3 linked regions of the Homo sapiens genome follow. The protein of the gene in region 3 purifies or fractionates together with the protein of the main gene of each other region. This does not show direct contact. Each region holds a gene or a part of one and is shown on either strand. Other genes may lie near its edges.

Region 1 (7,290 bases), on a different chromosome or scaffold from region 3:
GGGAACAGGGCTGTGGAGGGGTACGCCAAGGGCCAGGGGACTACCAGACTGCAAAGGTAGCATAAGCGGGAACATGCCCACAGCAACCAACCCTGGGGTCAGTTTGCAGAGGAGCCACCTTGAGTCTGACCAGTTCTCCATGCCCCTAGCTCCCCTCCCAGCAGCTGTTAGTCCCCCACCCAAACCTAAGCAGCAAGAACACAGCAGAGGCAGAAAAGTTCTCCACTACACCTACAGCTACTGTCAGCCACTGGCGGGAGGAGAGGACAGAGTTTTGGGTTAGGGTACCTCCAAGCTGCCCAGCGAGGGAAGGGGAAAGGACTGTTCAGCTATAGCAGCAGAATGGGGCAGGCAACCCATACCCCTCTATGCCAGCTACCCATGCTCCAGGGCCAGAAGGTCACCCTAAAGCAAGACTGGTATACAGGCTGGTGAGAGTTCCCAGACACCAGCACCCAGGGCCGCATAAGTAAAACCTCAGGGCCCATTCTAGAGGTAAGGAGGTACTGTACCCCCAGGTTGTCTTCCTCTTTGAGGAATCCCTCCCCTCCCTAGTCAGCTCCATGCAGAAACATGCCAGGAGGAAGTCAGATGGTAGTAGGGTAAGGGCAGGGGATAAAGAGCACAGGTTGGGGAAAAAAGAAACACTGGGGAGATCAACTAGAGGAGAGGCTGGGAGGAGCCGTACCCGCCCCATGGGCCCGTCACCCCGACAGGATATGCCTCACAAACGCTGCAGGAAGGAAGAGACATTCATGGTGAAGACAAGACAAAGACATGGGGTGAGGGGTCAGGCAGTGGGGACAGACATTCCATTATTTCACTTCTCATTCCTTCCCACCCTCTACAATACTACCCCCTTCCTTTCCTGTTATACCGCCCTGACCTCCCACTCCTGGGCTGGGCTGGGCAGGGCCCTGCACCTTGCCTCCTGGCTCTTTTTGGAGCCCAAGTCCAGGGATAGGGAAAGCCCCAGACACTATACTTGACCTGCCCCATATGGCTGCTTTCTCTGAGAAAGCGCAGTTCACCTCTTACCTTCATAGTTGATACAACCATTGCTGTCCTCATGCCCTGCCACCAGCATCTCTACTTCTTCCTCTGTCATCTTCTCACCTGCAGGGGGAAAGAAAGCATTTTTGGAATTGGGTGACAAGTGAGGTACCTCAGGGTGCCATCTCAGCTCAAGGACAAGGACACAGAACCTTACCCAGTGTGACAAGAACATGCCGGATTTCAGCACCCATGACGGTGCCATTTCCTTCCTTGTCAAACACCCGAAGTCCTTCGACATAATCCTCATAGGTGCCCTGGTCCTTGTTCTTGGCCACTGTCTGCAGCATGGGCAGAAAGTGCTCAAAGTCCAGCACCTTCACATTCATCTCTGCCATAAAGGAGGTGGAAGTGTCAGGCCAGAGAAGTAACACAAGTTCTCAGGACAGGGGATTATAGAGACCTCAACTGAACAGAGAGATGACAGATGACTCCCCACTAAAAGCAAGGAAATCCATGGGATTTGCTAATCCAGACTTGCTTGAGTTTGGGGCCTATGAAGATAAAGGGAAGCTCTTAGCTGAAGAACTGTGGGCCCATGACCACACTGAGGAGTTGTTCTTTAGGCCCCTCACCATCACTCTTGGGGTTCCCCAGGACCTTGAGCACCTCGGCGTTGGTAGGGTTCTGGCCCAGGGCCCTCATCACATCCCCACACTGGCTGTACAGGATCTTGCCATCACCTGTTCGGTCAAACAGCTGGAAGGCCTCCTTGAACTCTGAGGATTCAGATGAATGTCAACACAGGATTTGAGGGTTAATCCAAACCCTACCTCAGAGCTCTGCTGCCCATTCAACTTTGATCATGCTGAGGAAACGAGATATCTGCACCAAACTGTACACCAAAGTCTACTTAAGAGGGCTCTATTTCTCTTCCTCCCAACTCAAGTGTTCTATATAGAGGCTTCCTCCCCTTCTGGCAGCCTGGTAACATCCATTTACACAACCCCTCTGCCTGCGGCAGGCCTGCCAATCTCCACTGCTGCTACTACACTTCTCAGGGCAGGAATTCGCCACCGCCCAGTCTCAGTCCTGTCCTTATAAGGAAGTGGGAGCAGCAGCCTGGGACTAGGGTCATCCCAACCTGCCACTTCGCACCCCTCCAGTATAAAGAGAACTTCCAGAGGGTATAGCTACAGTCATATCCTTAGCAAACTCCCCTGTCTTGTCCCCATCTGCACAGAATATCAGGTCACTGCTCTACAATCTTCACAACTGCAAGCTGGGAGGGCGGGGACAGTTATCACAAGAGGAGAAAAGAGGCAGAAGTAGCTGATTAAAGGACAAAGGAAAGCAGGCAGCTTTATACACCCTCCCGAGACCCCACACACAGCAGGCATTAAGTGACCAAGTTTTTTCACATACCCACACCACCTAAAACTCACCCAGTGCTTGGGATCAGATCTAGAGTGGAAGGGGAGGGAGGAAGAAAGTGAGAAAAGAAAATGGAGGATCCAGAAGAAGAGAAAATAATCCAGGGGGTAATCTCATGGGGGTGCTAAAGAGATGACAGATTAAGATTAGAGGATAGGTGCTGGGGGGAGGGTGTCCCTCTCCCTAAGGGTGACCTCGGTAGGGATCAGAGATAACCTACCTGCGGTCTGGTCTTCGGTGAAGTCACACTGCTCAGAGAAGAGGGAAGTGGTCAGCATCTGAACGCCAATCCCCCGAGTTTCTATCCCAGCCCCACAAACTCTGACCCACAAACTCTGACCCACAAACTCCTGTTTCAGGCTGCAGACTCGCTTCCCCGCAGGGCCCCAGTCTTTCCAACCCCACCTCCAACCTTTCGGGTCCTCAGATTCCCTTTGCCTCCTACCCCTGCCTTCTCCTCGCCCCCCACCCGTCTCTTCCTGCCTCTCGTCCCCAATCCTGCCCGTCTCCCAAGACCTGGGCCCCACCATCTTGACTGCTCAGCTCTCCGGGACCTTTTCCTGCAGTAATGGCTCCGACTCTCGGCCCAACCCTAGTCTTAGTACGTCCCGATGACGTCACCCTCAGAGGACTCAGCCAATAGGAACCGTGGCCTGGGTTTATGCAGACGATTGCTACATTAGTAATGACTTGGGCGGGGTCCGCTGTTCCTTTCTCCAGCGCCACCTGGGCACAGAACCCGCTCGGAGGTGGGGGGGGTCGTGGGGGGAGGTGGGGGGGCGGGGGTCGTGGGGGGACGTGGGCTGGGGCACAATGAATCTGCACCTCCCAACAGCAGGAAGATCAGAGGATTGGAAGAGGAGAGAGCCCTCTTTTCCCGCCCTCTCCTCCTAGCACCCTCCCCGTCTCCCGCTGCTCCCCCAACCATGAAAAAAATAGCAGTCTGAAACCAAGAGAGGAACCCAGTCTTTATTTTGAAACAATAGGTGGCCTCCTGGTGGCTGGAACGTGCTTTCGCCTGCGGGGCCCAGTGTCCGGACCCCACTGGATCTGTGGAAAAAAACCAAAGTTGCGAAGCGCTGGAGCCCGTGCAGCAACCGGACAGCAGAATGAACTCCGCTGCTTTTCTATGTTGGCTGAGAGAAGGGCGGGAGACTTGCCTCGTAAGGCGCGGCGAAGGGGTGGGAGGGCCCTACCTGCAGCACTCAGACGCTTAGGATGTGTTTCAAGAAGGCTGCAGAGAGAGGAGGCAAGAGGGGCTTCAGAAGCAGGCCTTTGGATAATACATCTGACTCTAGGTAATCCAGGGGTGCCCCCGCCCACACGCGGCAAGACGCCAGGCTGCCCTCCTCCCTCGGCCCCGCTCCCGCTTTTTTGTCCCCTCACCCTCGTAGTTGATGCAGCCGTTGCTGTCCTCGTGTCCTGCCAGAACGGTCTCCACCTCCTCCTCAGTCATCTTCTCTCCTGAATCCCAGACACAACGTCTGAGGCCCTCCTTTCCCTCCTTCACTCACCCAGGCCACGCTTTTCCTTTTTTTTTTTGAGACGGAGTTTCGCTCCTGTCGCTCAGGCTGGAGTGCAGTGGAGCGGAGCGATCTCGGCTCACTGCAACCTCCGCCTCCCGTGTTCACGCGATTCTCCTGCCTCACCCTCCCGAGTAGCTGGGATTACAGGCGCCCGGCTAATTTTTTGTATTTTTGGTAGAGACGAGGTTTCGCCATGTTGGGCAGGCTGCTCTCAAACTCTTGACCTCAGGTCATACACCTGCCTCGGCCTCCCAAAGTGCTAGGATTACAGGCGTGAGCCACCGCGCCTGGCTTTTTCCATATATTTTTGTAAACAACAATATAAACATAACAATTGTAATTTTTTTTTTTTTTTTTTGAGATAGGGTCTCCCTCTGTCACCCAGGCTGGAGTGCAGTGACATCATCATGGCTCACTGCAACTTCCACCTCCTGGGCTCCAGTGATTCACATCGGCCTTCGAAGTAGCTGGGACTACAAGCGTGCACCACCACGCCTGGCTAATTTTTAAATTTTTTTGTAGAGACATGGTTTTGCCATGTTGCTCAGGCTGGTCTCGAACTCCTGAGCTCAAATGATCTGCCCATCTCGGCCTCCCAAAATGCTGAGATTACAGGTGTGAGCCACCACGCCCAGCCTTGTACTTTTTTTTTTTTTAAATAGAGATAGAATCTCACTACGTTGCCCAGGCTGGTCTCGAACTCCTGGGCTCAAGCGATCCTCCTGCCTTGGCCTCCCAAAGTGCTAGGATTACAGGAGTGAGCCACTGCTCCCGGCCAGCCCATGCTGTTTTGCTTTTTTTTAAACTGAGTCTTGCTCTATCACCCAGGCTGGAGTACAGTGGCACGGTCTCGGCTCACCGCAACCTCCACCTCCCGGGTTAAAGCGATTCTCCTGCCTTAGCCTACCAAGTAGCTGGGATTACAGGCACCCGCCATCATGCCTGGCTAATTTTTGTGTTTTTAGTAGAGACGAGGTTTCACCATGTTGGCCAGGCTGGTCTTGAACTCCTGATCTCAAGTGATCCGCCTGCCTCGGCTTCCCAAAGTGCTGGGATTACAGGCTTGAGCCACCGTGTCTGGCCTTTTTTTTTTTTTTTGAGACAGAACCTTGCTCTGTCCCCCAGGCTGGAGTACAGTGGCATGATCTCTCGGCTCACTGCAACCTCAGACTCCCGGGTTCCAGCGATTCTCCTGCCTCAGCCTCCTGGGTAGCTGGGATTATAGGTGCGTGCCACCATGCCCGCCTAGTTTTTATATTACTAATAGAGATGGGGTTTTACCATGTTGGCCAGGCCGGTCTCGAACTCCCGAGCTAAGGTGATCCGCCCGCCTTGGTCTCCCAAAATGCTGGGATTACAGGCGTGAGCCACCATACCTGGCCAGGCCACGCTCTTTAGAGTGGTACCTCTTCTTCTCCCATAGCCTCAGTCCTCAAGGGAATCCTCCCCTGGTCATGGATGCCTCTTGCTTTCCATTTCACCCTAGTACTGCTGAAAGTATTGACCCACAAGGAAACAATCCCAGGAGGTTACGAGACTTGTACCAGAACACACAACCCACACGTCTCTTCCAAAATGAAAATTCAGGTTTCCCGCCTCATCCCTTTTCCTCTGCCCTCCGGATGGCACTTTAGCCTCTGGAAGAGCGAGTCCTTCAGATTCTACCCCCATAGCTCTGACCTTCTCAGTCTCCTGCCGACAACCTGCAGGACAGTAAGCCTCCTGCTAGCTCTGCTTATCTGTCCAGTCTTTCTGGCCCACCCCATCCCCCTCTCCACTCTAAAGGAGTTCTGGTCCCCCTTGCCTGCCTCACCAAGGGTGGTGAGAACATGTCTGAGCTCTGCTCCCATGACTTTGCCGTTCCCCTCCTTGTCAAACACACGAAACCCCTCCAAGTAGTCCTCATATGTGCCTTGGCCTCGGTTCTTGGCCACTGCCTGGAGCATGGGCAGGAAAGTCTCAAAGTCCACACGCCGCGACTTCAGCTCTGGAGGTTGGAGAGAGGTAAAGGAGAGGTCATTGTAGTATTACATAGGACCCAGCTCCCAACCCTACCACAATGCTTTCATCCTATTCAGCATTTAGGATATTTTCCTGCTTCTGTGTTTGACAGTTTTTGAAGTCCTGAGATCCACCTCATTCTTTTTGTTACCAACATCCAACTTTTGAAAACTAAAAACCCAAATTGTTCCCAAGGGTCCCCTCACCATCACTCTTGGGGTTCCCCAGGACCTTGAGCACCTCGGCGTTGGTGGGGTTCTGGCCCAGGGCCCTCATCACGTCCCCACACTGGCTGTACAGGATCTTGCCATCCCCCACTCGGTCAAACAGCTCGAAGGCCTCCTTGAACTCTAAAGTATAAGGAAGGGTCAGTGTAGACACTGACTAGGGTTCCCATCACCCCCAGACAGAAGGGAATTTCAGAAACTATGTGAACAGAACAAGGGAGGAAAAGAGGACTAGTATGGGAGGTTTCAAGGTCAGGACTGGGGTTAGGGGAATAGAAAGAGAATCTGACCAGGGGATTGGGGATGGGACAGTGGCCTTAGATGAGCTTCTCCTCACCCTCCAGCTGGTCCTTGTTAAACTCGATCTGTGGAAGAAAAAAGCAGGTGGGGAGAGATGAGAGTTTATTCAATCCCTCTCCCGCACTCCTCCCAACCAACTGGCAGCCACTTCTGAGGAGGGGCCCAAAGGGACCAGGCTGGAAGCCCAGCCACCTCAGTCCCATTCCCAGCTCTGGGCCTTGGGAGAATCCCAAGAAGAGGAATTACAGTGGGGAGGGTTTCCTGGGAACAGGGTTAATCCCATGCCACCTGTTTCCCTCCCTCCATTGCCCTGAGCCCTGCATCCCACACATAACTGGGGGCTGAACAAAGGCTAAATTTACCCCTGGCCCCCAGCTGTGATTGTCTAACAAGTCTGTCCTCTTCAGCCTCCCCTCCTGGAGTTCAGAGCTGCAGGCCTTTTGAATTGAACCACCAGCCAGGGGCAGGCAACAGCTCTCTTCCCTTCACCTTGAAACTGTTCTCAGAACCCAGATGTTCCCCATCTAAGAGTCCCTGCCTCCAGCAGGGGGTAAGTGAGTGTGTATGTGCTGTACACACATGATTATAGGTTAGAGGGAGAGAACAGCAAAGACAACAGCAGAGTCATAAGACTGGATGCTTCCAAATGGGGGACTAAGGGAAAGCCCCAATCTCATTCCAGGGCTCACTGATTCCCTACCTTCTAGATACCCCCTAATCCCCTAGGCTGTATCCCACCCTCAAACCACCCCCTCCAATTCTATCTTCACTTTCCAGAGACTCACCACCACTTTGGAGAGATCGACTGG
Region 2 (4,133 bases), about 24 Mb from region 3:
CTTCCAAATTTTCACATTAATTTCCCATGCAATTCTCCCAAGCATTGCTGAGGTAGGCCAAATTGGTTCCTCTTCAAACAGGTGAGGAAATTGAGCCTCCGAGATGAAAAGTAGCCCAGGTCCTTCCCACCCAGTGCTCTTTCTTCCTTGCCACCTCCCACCTCCCATTCTTACCTCCTAGGAGGCTTGGCTGCATGGCAGTTGTTCTACTGCAGCCTCTGCTGGCACACAGCCCCTCTGCTGCCTAGCTCTTTCCTGTTCAGAAGGAATGGATGCTGCCTCTGGAGGCCAAGCTGCTGGTCTCCTCTCTTCCTTGAATGGTCCCTTGATTCCCTCAGCAGTGGGGACAGTCTGCAGAATGGGGCTTGCTCTGGGTCACTGTTCTAAGAGCTGAGTTCTAGTCCTCACCTAAGATCAGACTGACATGGCCCTCAAAGGAAGAGCACTAGGTTGGGCTTTGTGGTGGGGATCAGTGTCTCATTTTTAGTCCCAAATTAAAAACGAGATTTTGGGCTGTACATCAGAGCAGTGACATCATGGACATTATGTCTGTGGGTCAGCATGGGTACACACAGCTCCCAGCCCAGGTACATAAGTGGGCCCACATTTCCTGGACTGCATGGAACGCCATGAGCCCAGTGCTCCAGAGCCTTGTACTGTATAGTGCTGCATGATCACCATGGGAAAATCTGAAAACAGCCTCATTTCTGGAATGTACAGGTAACATTCTTCCAGATCCAGCCCTCTGTCAGTTAATGTTTTATTAACTTTTCACTGCTTCTCTAGGGCTCAGAAAAGGGATTTTTAAAAACCGGTTTGCTTCTGCAGGTGCTGTCAGACCTGGGCTATGCCTGGTGGTTTGCACGTGCCCCTAGCTGTTGCTGCCAGTAAATTGCTGGTTACGTTCCCATGCCGCACTCCAAGATTTACCATTGTAGAGTGTCAGAGCTTGAAAGGGTCCCTGAGATCATTAGGCCCAACCTCTTCATGTCATAGAAGAGTAAACTGAGGCTCATAGAGGAATAGTGATTAGTTCAAAATCACCCGACAAGTGAGTGGACTTGACTTGGTCCCAATTCTAAATGTGCTATTTGAGATCAGTGGTTCCAACATGGTTACCCAACAGGCAGCACTGGCCTTCTACCTGTGCCTTTCCTTGACTGGATGAGAGTAGTACTGCCTTTGGACTGCAGAGAAGACTTTAAAAAAAAGTAGCACTGGCTGGTGGGAGGGGTGGGATGGGGAGAGGAGATGGCTGGAGCAAGGAGCCAGGCATTTTTCTTATCTCAACATGTGTTTGCAGCCTCCTCCAAAACTGCCCAGTGGAGTGTTCAGTCTGGAATTTCAAGATTTTGTGAATAAATGGTAAGTTGGCTCCTTGTTCTCTGGAAGCGTATACTCTGGATTTGTCAGGCTCCCCACCCCATTTCTGGAAGCACCAGCATTGCTTCTGCAGGCAGAGTTTTGCCCTTTACCCTCCCGTCTGATGATTCTTGGCTGCTGCCATAAGCCCTTTTTTAGAGTGCCAAGACTTATGTGGCATGTCTAACTACATCATGGATGTAGTAGCTGCTCCTTTTGGTACTTGCTCTCCAGGGATTGGCACGTTGCTTTTTGACCTTAGTTTAACTCAGCAAGAATGTATTAACTTACTGTGGGCATGATACTGTGCTTAGAACAGGAGGATGAATCAAGCCCAGGCAATCCTCGGCCTCTAGTGTGCAGAGAAGACAGGCATGCAAACATGTTATTTGAGCTAGAACCAGTGCCAGGCAACAGCTCTTACCTTGTCTTTCTTCCTTTAAGCTTAATAAAAAACCCCGCAGAGAGAGCAGATTTGAAGCAACTCATGGTGAGTCTATTTATTCCGGATTCTTACAGTACCTGTTTATTCATTTGTTCTTCTCTGTCAGTCATCTGTGCAGTACTTCCAGAGCCCATTCATTCCCTGCCCACTGTGGTCCAGCTGAGCCTGGGGCTGCAGAATACCAAACACCAGTCTCCTTTGCTCTCCCATCAGTTTAAGGGAAAGCTGGGGTGACCCCCGCAGCCTGAGTAAGCATATGCCAGAGGAAATGCCTGAGGGGGCCATGGGAAAGAAAAGGCCAGCCCACCCCCTTCATGGGGATGCGGCCTTTCCCTAATACTGACTGCCTCATCTTACATTCAGCCTCCTTCCAGAGTCACTCTCCGCCTGCTGTCTCGTTTGGTGGCAGTGGAAATAGCTAAGTAATACTGTAAATATCTGGACAGCCATAGACGGTGTATATAGTATATAATATGCACTAAGTCCATCATTTTCTTTGTCCCTTCTAACAAGCCTGTGAGGCATTTAAGGCAGAGTTACTGTCTCCATACTGCACGAGTAGGCTCCAAGAGGTGACTTGCCCAAGGCCTCACAGCTGCTGTGACTGGTGGAGCAGGTCTTTGGGCCTGCAGCTGGCCCCACTGTTGCTCAGGGGCAGGTGCCAGGTGCTCTTTCCAAGTGCAGCACAAGCTCTAGACCTGAAACTCTTGGATTTTCCTTCCTGGTGGGTTTTGTTTTTTTGTTTCTTTTTAACACCACGTCCTCTCGTTTCCTTACATGCAGGTTCATGCTTTTATCAAGAGATCTGATGCTGAGGAAGTGGATTTTGCAGGTTGGCTCTGCTCCACCATCGGCCTTAACCAGCCCAGCACACCAACCCATGCTGCTGGCGTCTAAGTGTTTGGGAAGCAACAAAGAGCGAGTCCCCTGCCCGGTGGTTTGCCATGTCGCTTTTGGGCCTCCTTCCCATGCCTGTCTCTGTTCAGATGTGCATTTCACCTGTGACAAAGGATGAAGAACACAGCATGTGCCAAGATTCTACTCTTGTCATTTTTAATATTACTGTCTTTATTCTTATTACTATTATTGTTCCCCTAAGTGGATTGGCTTTGTGCTTGGGGCTATTTGTGTGTATGCTGATGATCAAAACCTGTGCCAGGCTGAATTACAGTGAAATTTTGGTGAATGTGGGTAGTCATTCTTACAATTGCACTGCTGTTCCTGCTCCATGACTGGCTGTCTGCCTGTATTTTCGGGATTCTTTGACATTTGGTGGTACTTTATTCTTGCTGGGCATACTTTCTCTCTAGGAGGGAGCCTTGTGAGATCCTTCACAGGCAGTGCATGTGAAGCATGCTTTGCTGCTATGAAAATGAGCATCAGAGAGTGTACATCATGTTATTTTATTATTATTATTTGCTTTTCATGTAGAACTCAGCAGTTGACATCCAAATCTAGCCAGAGCCCTTCACTGCCATGATAGCTGGGGCTTCACCAGTCTGTCTACTGTGGTGATCTGTAGACTTCTGGTTGTATTTCTATATTTATTTTCAGTATACTGTGTGGGATACTTAGTGGTATGTCTCTTTAAGTTTTGATTAATGTTTCTTAAATGGAATTATTTTGAATGTCACAAATTGATCAAGATATTAAAATGTCGGATTTATCTTTCCCCATATCCAAGTACCAATGCTGTTGTAAACAACGTGTATAGTGCCTAAAATTGTATGAAAATCCTTTTAACCATTTTAACCTAGATGTTTAACAAATCTAATCTCTTATTCTAATAAATATACTATGAAATAAAAAAAAAAGGATGAAAGCTACTTTTGCTTTTGTGGTAAGCTTTTCAGTTTCTTTAGTACACAAGAAATACTGGTTTAGCCAAGCAACACTGGTGAGGGGGAAAGGTGAAGATGAGGAGGAGGCTGGAAGGCAGAAACAGGACACCGAGTTCAGTGCTTTGGACTAATGGGGCTTCCTGTAATTTCAATCTCTGGACTCAGTCCAGCTCTTCTCACCCAACACCCTTATCTGTGACTCTTCCAACCACCTTCCTTGTGGGACCTGTGAATAGATCCTGTATATTCCTTTGATCTCTTTTATACAAGGGAAAAGCAGCTGATGGGGGACTGGGAGCAAATCTGAGAAAAATGACAAAACATTTCTTATCTCACAGAACATTTCTCATTTTCCATATACCAATAGTTGAGCTGAGGGCCTGCCTGCACTTTTAGGCTGTCATGCTCATAGGAGGGCCTTGCTGGTGGCCAGCTTGCCTACCTGGTGTGGGAGCTTTCTGCACAACATAGGACAGTCTGTCTCC
Region 3 (6,627 bases):
CGTAATAGGTAAGGCAGCTCCATAGTTGAGTTCTGGAAATCTGGGGTGCTATACTTTGATCATCCAGAGAACAGCATAATCCCTTTTTTTTTTTTTTTTTTTTTTTTTTTTTGAGACGGAGTCTCGCCCTATCACCAGACTGGACTGCAGTGGTGATAGGGTATGGTACTCAGCTCACTACAACCTCTGCCTCCCGGGTTCAATCAATTCTCCTGCCTCAGCCTTCTGAGTAGCTGGGACTGCAGGTGCATGCCACTATGCCCAGCTAATTTTTGTATTTTTAATAGAGATAGGGTTTCACCATGTTGGCCAGGATGGCCTCGATCTGACCTCGTGATCCGCCCGCCTCGGTCTCCCAAAGTGCTGGGATTACAGATGTGAGCCACTGTGCCCGGCTGCATAATACCTTTTCCTTTTGGCCCCCCAAAATTTCCTGGCACGTAACATATTGTGAATGAGTGATAACTTAAATACGTTCAATAATAACAATTTATCTTTGGTAATACTGAGTGTGCTTATATACACAGCACCTACTCTTTCTAGAAAACCTCCTCCCTTGGTGCTTTTTATACGGACCCCCTTTTGTTTATTTACTTCTCCCAGTCCTCAAACATGCATGTATTCAAACACATACACCCTCTCCTTCCCCAGTGTCCTCCGTTTTCTCCTTTTATCATTAGGTTTCCTTTTTGGCCATGTGGAAGTGAAGAGAATTCCTATGATGTCATCCCTTCACACGCCACTTGTGGAACTCCTCAGTGGTTCCTCTTTGATAGGATGTAAGTGCTGCAGGCAGAGAGAGGTTGCCATTCCTCTCTCCAAGTCCCAGAGCAGATGGTACTTGGGCTTGGCAATCTGTGCTGCTTCAGCTGCAGAAGTACTTTTGACCTGTATTTTCTGCAGCCCTTTTCACTCTTGAAGACTTGGTTCATCTCCTTTCCCCATTTCACAGAATATTTTTATATGAGAATATAAAAACCATACCCTTACGATGTTATCTTTCAACAGGTTTAAAAATGTTATATTTGAAATCAGTCCAACAGAAGAAGTTGGAGACTTCGAAGTGAAAGCCAAATTCATGGGAGTTCAAATGGAGACTTTTATGTTACATTATCAGGTGGGTATGCACCAGCAGGAACCAAAAACTTTCTGGATGAGATTCTTGTCCAAGTAGGAGAAATAGATAAAGAGGAGACTCATCTGAGGAAAGCTGTCTACATTCAGCAGTGAGCTAGGCTCCACACTGCGGGGAAAGAAGCTGAGGGTTTCAGCATGTCTGGTTTGGTGTGTGCGCTCTGGAGAGCTTTTGCAGATGTCACTCTTCAGAAAACATTTAGCTGAAGCTTCCACTTAGTGCTGCCACTAAATCGAGCTGACACCTTGGACTTGAACAAAATGCAGAAGTACACATGCTGACACTGCAGAATTCTAAGCCCACTCAGTAGCTTGAAATCTTTTTGTCATTTTGATTTGATATAGGTACTTAAAAGTTAGATACATTCTGACAAGGTGTGTGTAAAGTTTATGTTTGTAAACTGAATTCTATCTTAAATCCAAAAAGAACTCGGGAGTAATTCATTTTTGTAGCATAAAGATCCCTAAGTTTTATTTTGAAATATCTGATTTTTACACGTTAAAAAATAACAGGGCATCGAGAGGATTCCTAGGTGACATCCAGACTCCTTTAGCTTTGTGTGTGTGGCACCGGTTAGTCTGCTTCTCTCTCCTTTCTTGCACTGCTTCACACAGCCATGCCCTGCCAGCCCGGGCAGGTGCCTTCCTGTCAATGTACATTTGGGCTTCTGCTCATGCTGCCCTCCCTCCCCTCCCCTGCCTCCCAACCCCGCCCCTTTTGTTCCTCCATGGAGTACTTCCATGGGTGTGCCTCCCCCAGCCAAGCCATAATAGGTGGTTTCCCCTTCGCTTCTGTAGCCCTTGCAGACATCCTCTGTTTACAGTAGGTGTTGACTTACTTCCCCTCTCCCCGCTAAAGCCATAAACTCCTTAAGGACAGGTAGCATTTCTTAGTCATCTTCGTTTCCTTCTCAATGACCAGTAGACCATTAAAACATGTTAGCTAAACAAATGTGAAATGATTTTGTGATGCACACAGCTAACTAAAGTACTTCCACCAAAAAAAAAAAAAGAATAGGAACCTCTTATTCCCTCAGTTTCACCAAATTATTTTTTTAATTTAAAATTTTTTATTTACGTGGAGTTATCAGAACATATTTTTATTTTTAAATTTTTTAACCAAATCATGTTAGGCCAACCAGTCTGCCTGTGGTAATTTATTAATTTATGTACAAATTCATTAAATGTGGGGTAACTGCCAGGTGTGGGGTATTCTGTTAGGCACAGGTCCCAGCAGCCCTCATGGAGCTGCTAGGATTTTTCCAACAGATAATTGAACTTGTGGGGTCCTTTCTTTTTTTGGAGGGGGGGGCAGAGTCTCGCCCTGTCTCCCAGACTGGAGTGTAGTGGCGTGTTCTCCATTCACTGCAACCTCCACCTCGTGGGTTCAAGTGATTCTCCTGCCTCAGCCTCCTGAGTGGCTGGGATTACAGGCGCACACCATCACGCCCGGCTAATTTTTTTTTTTTTTGAGACAGTTTCGCTCTTATTGCCCAAGCTGCAGTGCAATGGCACAATCTCGGCTCACTGCAACCTCCGCCTCCTGGGTTCAAGTGATTCTCCTGCCTCAGCCTCCTGAGTAGCTGAGAATATAGGCGTGCACCACCACGCCCCAACGCCCAGCTAATTTTTGTATTTTTAGTAGAAACAGGGTTTCGCCATGTTGGCCAGGCTGGTCTCTAACTCGTGACTTCGTGATCCGCCTGCCTCGGCCTCCCAAAGTGCTGGGATGACAGGCGTGAGCCACCACACCCGGCCTTGTGGGGTCCTTTCAAGACTTTTGACCCTTGCTTTCTCATCACCACTCTTATAAAGTTCAGAAGTGAGACCACTCAGATTTCTTAAACTTGTTCAGGACAATGGTGAAAGTAGCAGGAAAAGCGGGAGCATTGCAGTCAGATCTGGATTTATCGCCTCCATCTCTGTCCTGTTGTGCAAGTCATTTAACATCTCTGAGTCTCAGTAGCTCATCTTTAAAGTTAGAATAATCGCACCTCATAAAAATTTTTGTGAGGACTTTAAAAGATACTATGTAATGTGCTTACACAATGCCAAGCACATGGCAGACACCTAATAAAACATCAAGTTCTCTCTTTTCCCCTTGCCTTCGGGATAGAAAGTGTTCTCATATGGAATAGAAATTAAGAATCTATCAGATAGTATTAAGGTGACATTACTAGCCTTATCTCATTTCCCCGTGCTTAGTATATTTCATCATAGGTTTAAATGCTTCACCTTTTCCAGATTTATTAAAACTAGTGACCCATAACATGGATGAAATGGGAAAATGTCATTGTGACTTCTGAAATAAAAAGCTTAGATGTGTGTGGCAATTGAACATGTTTCTTTTTCTTTCCATGTATGATGAATTTTGATATGAACAACATGACTTCCTAACTCCAAATCAACCAGAAGCCTCCCTTGGCCAATGTGCCCTATTGCTCCAGCTCTCAGGCTGGTTGTGCAGTGGGTAGTTGCCTAGCGTGGAACTTTTCTTTCGCCCCAGTTCACATCTGGCACACAAGGCAGGCCTCAGTCCATCTGGATCCCTCCCTACATTGTGTCCTTTTTCCTTGTTCCACAGACTTGATTAACTGTCAAAATGTTTTGTTTTGTTTTGTTTTGTTTTGTTAATAGGACCTGCTGCAGCTACAGTATGAAGGAGTTGCAGTCATGAAATTATTTGATAGAGCTAAAGTAAATGTCAACCTCCTGATCTTCCTTCTCAACAAAAAGTTCTACGGGAAGTAATTGATCGTTTGCTGCCAGCCCAGAAGGATGAAGGAAAGAAGCACCTCACAGCTCCTTTCTAGGTCCTTCTTTCCTCATTGGAAGCAAAGACCTAGCCAACAACAGCACCTCAATCTGATACACTCCCGATGCCACATTTTTAACTCCTCTCGCTCTGATGGGACATTTGTTACCCTTTTTTCATAGTGAAATTGTGTTTCAGGCTTAGTCTGACCTTTCTGGTTTCTTCATTTTCTTCCATTACTTAGGAAAGAGTGGAAACTCCACTAAAATTTCTCTGTGTTGTTACAGTCTTAGAGGTTGCAGTACTATATTGTAAGCTTTGGTGTTTGTTTAATTAGCAATAGGGATGGTAGGATTCAAATGTGTGTCATTTAGAAGTGGAAGCTATTAGCACCAATGACATAAATACATACAAGACACACAACTAAAATGTCATGTTATTAACAGTTATTAGGTTGTCATTTAAAAATAAAGTTCCTTTATATTTCTGTCCCATCAGGAAAACTGAAGGATATGGGGAATCATTGGTTATCTTCCATTGTGTTTTTCTTTATGGACAGGAGCTAATGGAAGTGACAGTCATGTTCAAAGGAAGCATTTCTAGAAAAAAGGAGATAATGTTTTTAAATTTCATTATCAAACTTGGGCAATTCTGTTTGTGTAACTCCCCGACTAGTGGATGGGAGAGTCCCATTGCTAAAATTCAGCTACTCAGATAAATTCAGAATGGGTCAAGGCACCTGCCTGTTTTTGTTGGTGCACAGAGATTGACTTGATTCAGAGAGACAATTCACTCCATCCCTATGGCAGAGGAATGGGTTAGCCCTAATGTAGAATGTCATTGTTTTTAAAACTGTTTTATATCTTAAGAGTGCCTTATTAAAGTATAGATGTATGTCTTAAAATGTGGGTGATAGGAATTTTAAAGATTTATATAATGCATCAAAAGCCTTAGAATAAGAAAAGCTTTTTTTAAATTGCTTTATCTGTATATCTGAACTCTTGAAACTTATAGCTAAAACACTAGGATTTATCTGCAGTGTTCAGGGAGATAATTCTGCCTTTAATTGTCTAAAACAAAAACAAAACCAGCCAACCTATGTTACACGTGAGATTAAAACCAATTTTTTCCCCATTTTTTCTCCTTTTTTCTCTTGCTGCCCACATTGTGCCTTTATTTTATGAGCCCCAGTTTTCTGGGCTTAGTTTAAAAAAAAAATCAAGTCTAAACATTGCATTTAGAAAGCTTTTGTTCTTGGATAAAAAGTCATACACTTTAAAAAAAAAAAAAACTTTTTCCAGGAAAATATATTGAAATCATGCTGCTGAGCCTCTATTTTCTTTCTTTGATGTTTTGATTCAGTATTCTTTTATCATAAATTTTTAGCATTTAAAAATTCACTGATGTACATTAAGCCAATAAACTGCTTTAATGAATAACAAACTATGTAGTGTGTCCCTATTATAAATGCATTGGAGAAGTATTTTTATGAGACTCTTTACTCAGGTGCATGGTTACAGCCCACAGGGAGGCATGGAGTGCCATGGAAGGATTCGCCACTACCCAGACCTTGTTTTTTGTTGTATTTTGGAAGACAGGTTTTTTAAAGAAACATTTTCCTCAGATTAAAAGATGATGCTATTACAACTAGCATTGCCTCAAAAACTGGGACCAACCAAAGTGTGTCAACCCTGTTTCCTTAAAAGAGGCTATGAATCCCAAAGGCCACATCCAAGACAGGCAATAATGAGCAGAGTTTACAGCTCCTTTAATAAAATGTGTCAGTAATTTTAAGGTTTATAGTTCCCTCAACACAATTGCTAATGCAGAATAGTGTAAAATGCGCTTCAAGAATGTTGATGATGATGATATAGAATTGTGGCTTTAGTAGCACAGAGGATGCCCCAACAAACTCATGGCGTTGAAACCACACAGTTCTCATTACTGTTATTTATTAGCTGTAGCATTCTCTGTCTCCTCTCTCTCCTCCTTTGACCTTCTCCTCGACCAGCCATCATGACATTTACCATGAATTTACTTCCTCCCAAGAGTTTGGACTGCCCGTCAGATTGTTGCTGCACATAGTTGCCTTTGTATCTCTGTATGAAATAAAAGGTCATTTGTTCATGTTTGTGTTTTTCTCAGTTTCATTGTTAACAGTTCCTGCTAAACACCTTGACTAGAGTGAGATGTATCAGTTAAAATCACAACAGCAGACAACCCCTTCCTTTTAAAGGAGAAAACGTAAGTCCACCATCAGATCATTGAATGTCTCAAAGTGACTTTTAATGTGTGAACGTGTGACTTTAGCCTTTTTAATGAATATGCTTAAGTTATCTTCACCATAAAAAGAAGGGTGTTGCGGGAAGCAAACATTATATGTCACTTAATTCTGATTGACGAACGGTGGAAAGTTTAAAATTGCAACAGCATTTAACCTTTTTTGACCAGCATACTGTTGTTGAGCACATAGACTGTGCCCCTTAGGGGGTTCCTATGTCACTTGGAAGTCACCAGAAAAGACTAGGGGATGTTGAATGTGGAAAAAGTAAATCACAGCAGTAAAAAAAGAAGAAAAGGGGCTGGCGTAGTGGCTCACACCTGTAATCCCAACACTTTAGGAGGCCGAGGCGGGCCGGATCACCTGAGATCAGGAGTTTTAAGACCAGCCTGGCCAACATGACGAAACCCCTACTAAAAATACAAAAATTAGCTGGGTGTGGTGGCACACGCCTGTA

What was found. Proteins that work in one complex are often made in the same cells at the same time.
Region 1: the proteins of IQGAP1 (region 3) and MYL6 purify together in Homo sapiens (affinity purification with mass spectrometry; 5 studies listed by BioGRID and IntAct, with this or other methods). This does not show direct contact.
Region 2: the proteins of IQGAP1 (region 3) and MAP2K1 purify together in Homo sapiens (affinity purification with western blotting; 3 studies listed by BioGRID, with this or other methods). This does not show direct contact.

What each region holds. Positions count from the first base shown.
Region 1 is NC_000012.12:56,154,069-56,161,358, reverse strand, and holds the start of MYL6 (myosin light polypeptide 6), read right to left. Parts: upstream 3,001-7,290; 5' UTR 2,958-3,000; coding exon 2,955-2,957; intron 2,676-2,954; coding exon 2,648-2,675; intron 1,773-2,647; coding exon 1,629-1,772; intron 1,385-1,628; coding exon 1,211-1,384; intron 1,117-1,210; coding exon 1,039-1,116; intron 734-1,038; coding exon 705-733; 3' UTR 689-704; intron 1-688. Other genes in the region: MYL6B (myosin light chain 6B), read right to left, coding at 3,633-3,661, 3,814-3,891, 5,767-5,940, 6,161-6,304, 6,519-6,546, 7,267-7,290. UniProt on the Homo sapiens protein: Regulatory light chain of myosin. Does not bind calcium.
Region 2 is NC_000015.10:66,487,912-66,492,044, forward strand, and holds the end of MAP2K1 (dual specificity mitogen-activated protein kinase kinase 1), read left to right. Parts: intron 1-1,303; coding exon 1,304-1,365; intron 1,366-1,806; coding exon 1,807-1,852; exon of another isoform or gene 1,853-2,590; coding exon 2,591-2,704; 3' UTR 2,705-3,633; downstream 3,634-4,133. UniProt on the Homo sapiens protein: Dual specificity protein kinase which acts as an essential component of the MAP kinase signal transduction pathway.
Region 3 is NC_000015.10:90,496,224-90,502,850, forward strand, and holds the end of IQGAP1 (ras GTPase-activating-like protein IQGAP1), read left to right. Parts: intron 1-1,008; coding exon 1,009-1,117; intron 1,118-3,771; coding exon 3,772-3,885; 3' UTR 3,886-6,016; downstream 6,017-6,627. UniProt on the Homo sapiens protein: Plays a crucial role in regulating the dynamics and assembly of the actin cytoskeleton.